Regions from separate parts of the Homo sapiens genome. Here region 1 is linked to region 2. Evidence: fine-mapped expression QTL. A gene starts in region 2. The other region holds a variant in brackets. All regions are shown on one strand. Distances are from middle to middle.

The links. PIP is the estimated chance that this variant, and not a neighbour inherited with it, causes the effect.
Region 1: its variant is the best candidate, but not a certain one, in a credible set for the expression of RHEX in whole blood (TOPMed, PIP 0.51).

The regions. Positions count from the first base shown.
Region 1 is chr1:206,081,574-206,085,966 of GRCh38, forward strand. All of the region lies in intron 1 of RHEX (regulator of hemoglobinization and erythroid cell expansion), which reads left to right. Among named protein-coding and RNA genes, the nearest start is that of RHEX, 31 kb to the left of the region's middle. The variant T/G (reference allele first, on the strand shown) is at 1,957.
Region 2 is chr1:206,051,236-206,055,628 of GRCh38, forward strand. RHEX (regulator of hemoglobinization and erythroid cell expansion) reads left to right here and starts at 1,938. Exons shown (of 6, transcript NM_001007544.4): 1 at 1,938-2,030. It overlaps LOC105372857 (a long non-coding RNA gene), which reads right to left. Exons shown (of 3, transcript XR_922473.3): 3 at 2,208-4,393. RefSeq lists enhancers at 1,334-1,573, 1,994-2,053.

The sequences.
Region 1 (4,393 bases), 30 kb after region 2:
CAGTCCTAGCAAGAGTGTGCACAGAAGTGTAGCTTAATTAAAGGAATCATTATCTCTGATACATGATAAAAATGCCGCATCATTGTCCTTAATCAACTGAAGATCTCTAAAATGACACTGAAATATGTGTGTTCAAAGATCTTTAACAATCCTATGATCTTGTGAATCTTGGAGTAGCATCATGGAAGGTTCTGGTCCAAGAGTGGTCCACACAGAGGCTAGAGCTGTATGAATGTTACGTGACATTGGATGCTGCCATATCTACACTGGGTTCCTGTGAATGGATAATAGAAATAGCAGGCCAAGCATCTTGGCATGATCCCCACAGTTAGCTGTAGCTTGAATTGATTACTTAGTGTCCATGGCTGAGTCAGGAGCAGAGCGAAGTGTGTATTGACACTGGCAGGGCAAACCTAGAGCAGGTGGAGAGCCCAGTTAGGAAATCACTCCACATGGCTCCCAGTGTTCTGCTTTCCTCAAATCTTGAGTAATAAAGAGGCTTCATGTTTTTAACATGAACTATGCAAAGGGAAGCAAACTGCAGCAATAGACGTAGTTCCACAGTGAGCTGTGATACATCAACGGGTCATAAAACACTGAAAGGGACTCAGCCCAAGGGGTGGCTTTCTGACTTGCATTTAGAGAATAAAAATGTTAATAGCGGCTGGGCGCTGTGGCTCATGTCTGTAATCCCAGTACTTTGGGAGGCTGAGGCGGGTGAAGCACGATGTCAGGAGTTTGAGACCAGCTCCTGACCAGCATGATGAAACCCTGTCTCTACTAAAAATACAAAAATTAGCCAGGTGTGGTGGCACTCACCTGTAATGTCAGCTACTCAGGAGGCTGAGGCAGGAGAATCGCTTGAACCCAGGAGGCGGAGGTTGCAGCGGGCCGAGGTCGCACCATGGCACTCCAGCCTGGGCAACAGAGAGAGACTCCGTCTCAAAAAAAAAAAAAAAGTTAATAGCTACCATCTGTTGTTCACTACAGAAAGGACATTCTGTTAAGTGCTTCACTTACTTACTTATATTATTTAACCTTAAACAACCTTATGAGATTTAAAAAATATCAGATATTTATTATTAACCCAATTTTACAGATGAAAAAACTGACAATCAGAGAGGTTAAGTAACTTTTCCCAAGTCACCCAGTTGCCAAGTAGTGGAACCAGGATTGAAACCTGACTATATCTAACTCAGAAGCTATTACTCAAATTGCACCAGGCAATTTGTTCACAGCAAGGGACTGACATCATAGAGGCCTACAAATCTCTGTTTTCTTTGTCTGTTTTATATCTGGGTCATTTTATCCTCCTCCCATTCTTCTTTCCTCTTAAGTTTCTATTTTGGGATTTTAGGCCCTCCAAAGAGCCTGAAATCAGCCTTCCTTCCCTTCCTGCTGTTATCCCACAAACTGTAACAGCCATTTTTGGTTGGCCTCATTTGATGCTTAATGACAAAGAAGTTGTCCTCAAAAATTTATTCTTATCTATTGCCCAACGTCCCCTACTCACTTAATCTTTGAATACATCACATATAGATTCACAGATGAGCTAGGTTGGAAAGTATCTTTGCTAATATCTAGAGACCTACTTCTTCATTTTACAGAGGAAGAACATGAGTCCCTTTAGGGAAAAACAAATTGTCTGAGCTCATGTGGCACATTGGTGCCAGAGCTGGGACTTGATCTTAGGCCTCTTAACTCCTCCTTTAGTGCTCTTTCCACTCTACCTGGCTGCGTGTGTATTTGTGGTATCTAAATGTGTGCCACAGGGAGAGAAAGAGATTACTAATCTCCTCCATCTACACAAACTGTCTGTACCAGGGAGCTGGGCAGAGCATGGCCAAAAGAGACAGGAGGCATTATCTCTCCCTTCACCCTGCTGTACTCAACGAGCGAGATTGCTATCTTCTGAGTGGCAGTGCTCCCGCCTTGTTGGAAATGTTGAAACACTTG[T/G]GACTGACCTCCAGTGACACAGAAGCTTCTGGGTAGGGGCTGGAGAAGGGTCGGGGAGATATTTCCGTTAGGACATCGCTGAAACACAGACTGGGATCAAACTGTGCTCATAGTCCTAAGGGTAAGTACTGTCTATGGAGACAGGATTTTAAATTAGTTTGAAGTGTGCATTTGTTTGCGAGCATATATGTGTAGAAGTTTTAGAGAGGATTCTCTGTTTATGTGCTGAGATTCCAGGGTGCGGAATTCCACTTGCAATCAGCTTACAGTGAGCCTAAGATTACACTTTATGGACATGAATTTCTTGTGCCTGAGACCTGACATCTGTCTACACTAGCAACAGCAGCCATTGGGGCTTCGGCCAGAAGGTACATGGATTTTGGGTCCAGCAAAAACTGGTTCCAAATCCTCACTCTGCTAAACTTTTGTGAGCCTCAGTTTCCTCATCTGTAAAATGGGCATAAAACACCCACCTTACAGGGTTGCTACATGGATTCAGACAATGTACATTTAGTGCCAGTACAGGCTCCACCAATAACAGCTATGAAGTTTCCTTTTTAAGTCAAATGGGAACCAGATCTCACAGAATATCTTCCCCCATAAACATCCTATAGGAATGTTTTCCCTGAGAAAACACTCTGAGCAGCAAAGGACTAGTATGTGTGGAGGGAAGAGAGCCAGCCTGGGAGTTTTAAAATTTTATGAATAGAGGTCAGAGAATGTGCACCATGAAAGAAAAAAGCCATGCCAGCATCTGGACAAGGAAAAGCTAATAACAGCACAAAACAGAAACAGTCGACCCTTATATAGAGCTTAGTATCTGCCGAGGACTGTTCAAAGAATTTTACGCAGATTGGCCCATTTATTCCTCACACCTAAAGACGTAAGTGCTACTAACAGCCTTATTTTCCAGTTGAAGAAACTGAGGCGCCATGGTGTTAAGGGACTTGACTGAATCAGTGAAAGAAAACTCTTCTGGAGAATTTCATTACAGAAGAGTTAGATCAGGCTTTTCTCCATCTCTCCAACCTGGGAGGGGCTCAGACAATGCGGTGCTGGGAAGCATGTATCAGGTACTCAAGGAAGACTTGTTGATTGGCTGATCCTGCTTCTCGTTCTGTGTGTTGACCTATTTTGTGAGCTTTGGCAAACTACCCAATTAAATGCCTTGAGTAGGATCTGTTACATAATTGGTGGCACACAACGCAAAATGAAAATCTGGGGTCCCTTACTCAAAAATTGTTACGAATTTAAAGATGACAGCCACAAAGCATCAGGCCAATCATGGGGTCCTTGTGAGCACAGGGCCCTACTAGTCTGCACAGGTTACAAGTCCATGAAGCCAGCACTGGCCCTGAATCCTGACAAGGAGGCAGGAATGGTACTGGAAGTTTCCATGGTCTCATGTAGCCCTCCTAATAATTCTGAGCTCCCCCCAACCCCCGGGTTGGAGAGATGGAGAAAGGCCTGGTCTAACTCTTCTGTGCTAAAGTTCTCCAGAAGAGTTTTCTTTCACTGAATCAGTCGAGTCCCTTAACACCTTGCTGCCTCAGTTTCTTCAACTGGAAAATAAGTCAAATAAAGAGACATTTGACTGCCCAATTGAAAGAGGAGAAAAGCGAAACTCTGAGACATTAAGTGGCTCCCCCAAGGTTAAACATTTATTATATGCAAATTGATTTAATAGCAATGTGTACAGAGTGTTACACATTGAAATGCTTTTTCCATCCCTATCCCTGCCGTGTTTTTACGTACTGTGCTATGAATTGCGGAGTGTAATATATGCAGTCCCAGCCAACAAGATGCATAATCTATAGAGGGTGCATAATCTGTAGAAGGTGCCTAGTTTCCCTAAAATTTAGCAGGCCAATCGATGAAACAGAATAATTTGACCCCTTCTAATTCATCTGGAGCTTTGTGGGAACTAGCAAAATGAATCCATGAATACTGCTTGAGTAGCTTGCAACTTTTTGTGTTCTTGCTGATTTAGTCTTGGAACTAAGTTGCATCCACATTGCATTCATCTCTAGTAGTTCCTTGCAAAACTGCTTTCCCCAAAATTACTAATTAGAAACTCTGGATGACTTGCTTTCCTGCTAGAAATTGGCAGTGCTTGCACCTAGAAATAAATGTGACTGGAGGTGTGGTTTATCTAGTTGAGGCTCAAAGTTGCTCTTTCTCACTTTTGAATCTCACTTTTTAGTCCATTTCAGAAAAATTCTAAAATAACAAAATGTCAGAACTGAATTGATTTAGCCCACTCCTCTCATTTTATAGACAGGGGAACTGAGGCTCAGGGAGAGGAAATAATGTGCCCAAGGAATGTATAAAGTTGTTGAACTGGAATGTTCATCTAGGTTCTCATGCCATATTCCAGATGAGCCCTAGCCTCATAACCACCTGGGGTGAGGACCCTGACATGGTGACCAGAGCCAAA
Region 2 (4,393 bases):
CGGAGTACTTTGGGCTCTTTCAAATCAATTTCCGCTTCGAAGGCTAAAGATTTGTCATCAGCTAAGAGGTTCAAAAGTCTGTGGTGTAGGCTCTCCAAAATTCTGGCAGAGGTCAGTTGACCCTGGCTTTTATGAAGGAGTCTTTGGCATTCATTCATTCATTCATTTATTGAAGAAATATGTATTGGACCTATTCATTGCATGAGGCACTTTCTAGACACTGGGGGTGAAATGTTGGCCAAAACAGATAAGGTCTCTGTTCTTATGAAGCTCACATTCATGTGATGAGAGGCTGACAATAATCAAGTAAACAAATAAATGATCAAGGTGACTTCAGATACTAATAGATGAGAGGGCGATGTGACAGATAGGGTCTGGGGAGCCACCTTTGAATTTGTGCTGAATTCTATCTGAAGATGCCTTCACTAAGAGAGAGGTGCTGTCTCCATGGCCTTTGAGGCCCTCCCCTCCAGTGGTGAGATTTTAACAATCTCCCCATCTGACAGGTTCCCATGCAGGAATGAAAGACATGGAAGGGAAGAGGGGGGCCAGCTCCCTGAGTCCTGTGTCCACCAGCTGCTGCTAAATACCTCTGAGAAACTCTGCTTCTATCTAAGGGGACCTACTTCTCTCGGGAATCTCAATACTTGGAACAAGAACCTCCTAGACGGACCCTTTGGCATAATGAATTGGACCAACTGTAGGTTCCAGGACTAGAGAGCCAGCAATGCCTCCATGAACAATCTCACCCAATTACTCTGCTCAGGTAAGACCAACTGAAAACTAGAACAATACAAATGGTGGTTATTCCTGTCTTCTGTTTCTTTGTTTGTTTTTGTGACAGGGTCTTGCTCTGTCACCCAGGCTAGAGTACAATGGTGTGATCATGGCTCACTGCAGCCTCGACTTCCCTAGCTTAAGTGATTCTCCTATCTCAGCCTCTCAAGGAGCTGGGACTACAGGCATGCAGTAGCACACCCAGCTAATTTTCGGATTTTTTTTTTTTAAAGTAGAGACAAGGTCTAGCTATATTGCCCAGGCTGGTCTCAAACTCTTGAGCTCAGGCGGTCCTCCTGCCTTGACTTCCCAAAGTGCTGAGATTATAGGCGTGAGCCACTGGGCCTGGCTCGTTATTACTGTTGAATAATAGTCTGATCACTGAGTTCTTAAACAACTCCATGAGGTAGGCATTCATATTCTGTCTGTTTCACAGATGAGGCTCAGAAAAGCTAAGTGTTTGTCCTAAGATCACAGTTAGGAAGTGTCTGAGACCCAGGTCACTGTGAGGGAAGAGAGAGACCCTCTCATATTGTTTTATATTGTTTTATACTCAGTACCTGTTTTAAGGAAAAACAACAAGGAAGTAAAACCAAAGACAGGCAGTCCGGCGCCAGGCCCGAAACCAGGCCTGGGCCTGCCTGGCCTAAACCCAGTAGTTAAAAATCAACTCATAACTTAGAAACTGATGTTATTCATAGATTCCAGACATTGTATAGAAGAACATTGTGAAACTCCCTGCCCTGTTCTGTTTCTCTCTGACCACCGGTGCATGCAGCCCCTGTCACATACCGCCTGCTTGCTCAAATCAATCATGACCCTTTCATGTGAAATCTTTAGTATTGTGAGCCCTTAAAAGGGACGGAAATTGTGCATTCGGGGAGCTCGGATTTTAAGGCAGTAGCCTGCTGATGCTCCCAGCTGAATAAAGCCCTTCCTTCTACAATTTGGTGTCTGAGGGGTTTTGTCTGCGGCTCGTCCTGCTACATTTCTTGGTTCCCTGACCAGGAAACGAGGTAACTGATGGACAGCCGAGGCAGCCCCTTAGGCGGCTTAGGCCTCCCCTGTGGAGCATCCCTGAGGCGGACTCCGGCCAGCCCGAGTGACGCGATCCAAAGAGCACTCCCGGGTAGGAAATTGCCCCGGTGGAATGCCTCACCAGAGCAGCGTGTAGCAGTTCCCTGTGGAGGATTAACACAGTGGCTGAACACCGGGAAGGAACTGGCACTTGGAGTCCGGACATCTGAAACTTGGTAAGACTAGTCTTTGGAACTTGCCCCACTCCATCTAGGTGGAAGTGTGGCCTGATCACCCACGACATGCCTGCATTGGCACTTCTGTTCTGGTTTTGACTTGACTTAGATTGTGTGATACTTTGGTTTTGGTTTTGGTTTTGACCTGGCTTGGATTTCTGGATACTCTGATTTTGGTTTTGATTTTGGTTTGGTGTAAACTGCAAGAGTGTGTATGCCCTTTTTACCTGTTTTTTTGTTTGTGGCATGTGTGTGGTGTGGGTGTGGTGTTTTGTCTCGAAGAAGCATGGGTCAGGTACAAATAAGCCCACCCCACTAGGAACTATGTTAAAAAAAAATTCAAGAAAGAATTTAAGGGAGATTACAGTGTTACTGTGACACCAGGAAAACTTAGAACTTTGTGTGAAATAGACTGGCCAGCATTAGAGGTGGGTTGGCCATCAGAAGGAAGCCTGGACAGGTCCCTTGTTTCAAAGGTATGACACAAGGTAACCCGTAAGCCAAGGCACCCAGACCAGTTTCCATACATAGAAAGTTACAGCTGCTTTTATACCCCCTTGCCCCGCCAACGTAGTTAAGAGAACAGCAGCATAAGCGGCTGGCAGAGGCAAGGAAAGACCAGTAGAGAGAAAAAAAGGCCATCTATACCAATTCTAAGTTAATTTAGACTAAACAAGGTCTTAATAGCAAAGGATAATTGAAATCCCAAACTTACAAGGTTTTCAACAAAAGTGAAGTTTGCTTAAAGTTAACAGTGTAACATGTATTATGGTAACTTCTAATCTTGTGGCCTTAGACAGTCTAGTCCAAAGGCATAAAGAAAGTTTGCTTTAAAAAAAAAAAAAAGGAATGGTTATCTTCAAAAAAAAAAAAAAGTGGGGGGAGACAGAATTTATGTAAAAAGAGTGTTATATGGTAAATTCTTGTCCTGAAATAAACTAACTGGTGTTTAAAGAAAAAAAATGTTTGTAATAAGTCAGAAAGTTGAGACACATTGAAGAATTGTCGGCAAAAGTCGTGAAAGAAAAAATGTTATAAAAAAATTTATGCAAAAAATGTTGTATAATTTAAAAGTAATAAGGCCTCCTGAGTACTATTAAAAAAACAGTTTATGTGCAAGGTGTATAAGAAAAGTAAAACATACCTTTGGTAAAAAGATTATAAAGGGGCATAAGAATGTGGATTTTTACCTACATTAAAAGGTTAAAAACAATTATTGTTTTAAAAGTTTAAGCAAGTTTTAAAACGTTAATTATAAAGAAAATTCTGTGTGTAAACATATTAGCTAAAGTTAAAAAGGTATCATCCAGTTTTTCTGTGAACTGGACATTAAAGTAAAAAATGCCACAGGTTTTTCTTAAAGCATCAACCTGCTCTTTAACAAAAATTATAAAAGGTTAAAAAGAGTCTATAAAATCTTACCTTATGGTCAAACATGAAAAATTGGATAAATATGTCTACAAGGTTTTATTAAAATTCAGTTTAAAATTAATAACACACTAATATAAAGGTAAAATTTAGCTTATCTGGTATAAAAATCATACAAGAAACATTATTAAATATAAAATGGTGTTTAGCTTTCTTTGGTCTAAAAACTAATAAAAATTGGTGCTAAAGGAAACATTCATTTTACTAGAGGATCATAAAAGTTAAAGACTTAAAACAAACTTTGGCAATTAAGACAGCACGCCAAGATGCAAGTGCCTGGCTGAAATGGATCAAATATTCCATCTGCACTTTAAACAAATGCAATTGTTATGCTTGTGCACATGGCAGGCCAGAGGCCCTGATTGTCCCCCTTCCACTAAGGTGGTCCTCCAGTTGACCAGGCATGGGCTGCAGGGTAGCTATTTTCCAGGTTTCTACAGCTTGGAGTAATAAGTCATGCCAAGCTCTCTCTGCTATATCCCAAAGTCCCTGCGGGTCAGCCCCTGAGGGCCGTCCAGCTTCCGTCTCCCAACACTAAGTTCACTTCATGTCTCTCATGGCAGGGAGGAGACTTAGCATTCCTTGGAGACCTGAAGGGATGCAGTGAGCTTAAGAATTTTCAAGAGCTTATCAGTCAGTCAGCCCTTGTTCATCCCCGAGCGGATGTGTGATGGTATTGTCGTGGACCTTTATTGGGCACTCTGCCGAATAACTAGAGTGGCACTTGTGCTTTAGCCTATTTGGCTATCCCTTTCACCCTGGCATTTCATCAACCAGAGGAAGGAAAAAAAAAATAATAAGACATCGTAAAGCGAGAGAAGCCCCTTATGGGTCTTTCAACTCTCACATCTATTTAGATGCAATCGAAGCCCCGCAAGGAACACCAGATCAATTTAAAGTCCGAAATCAAATAGCTACAGGATTTAAGTCAATAT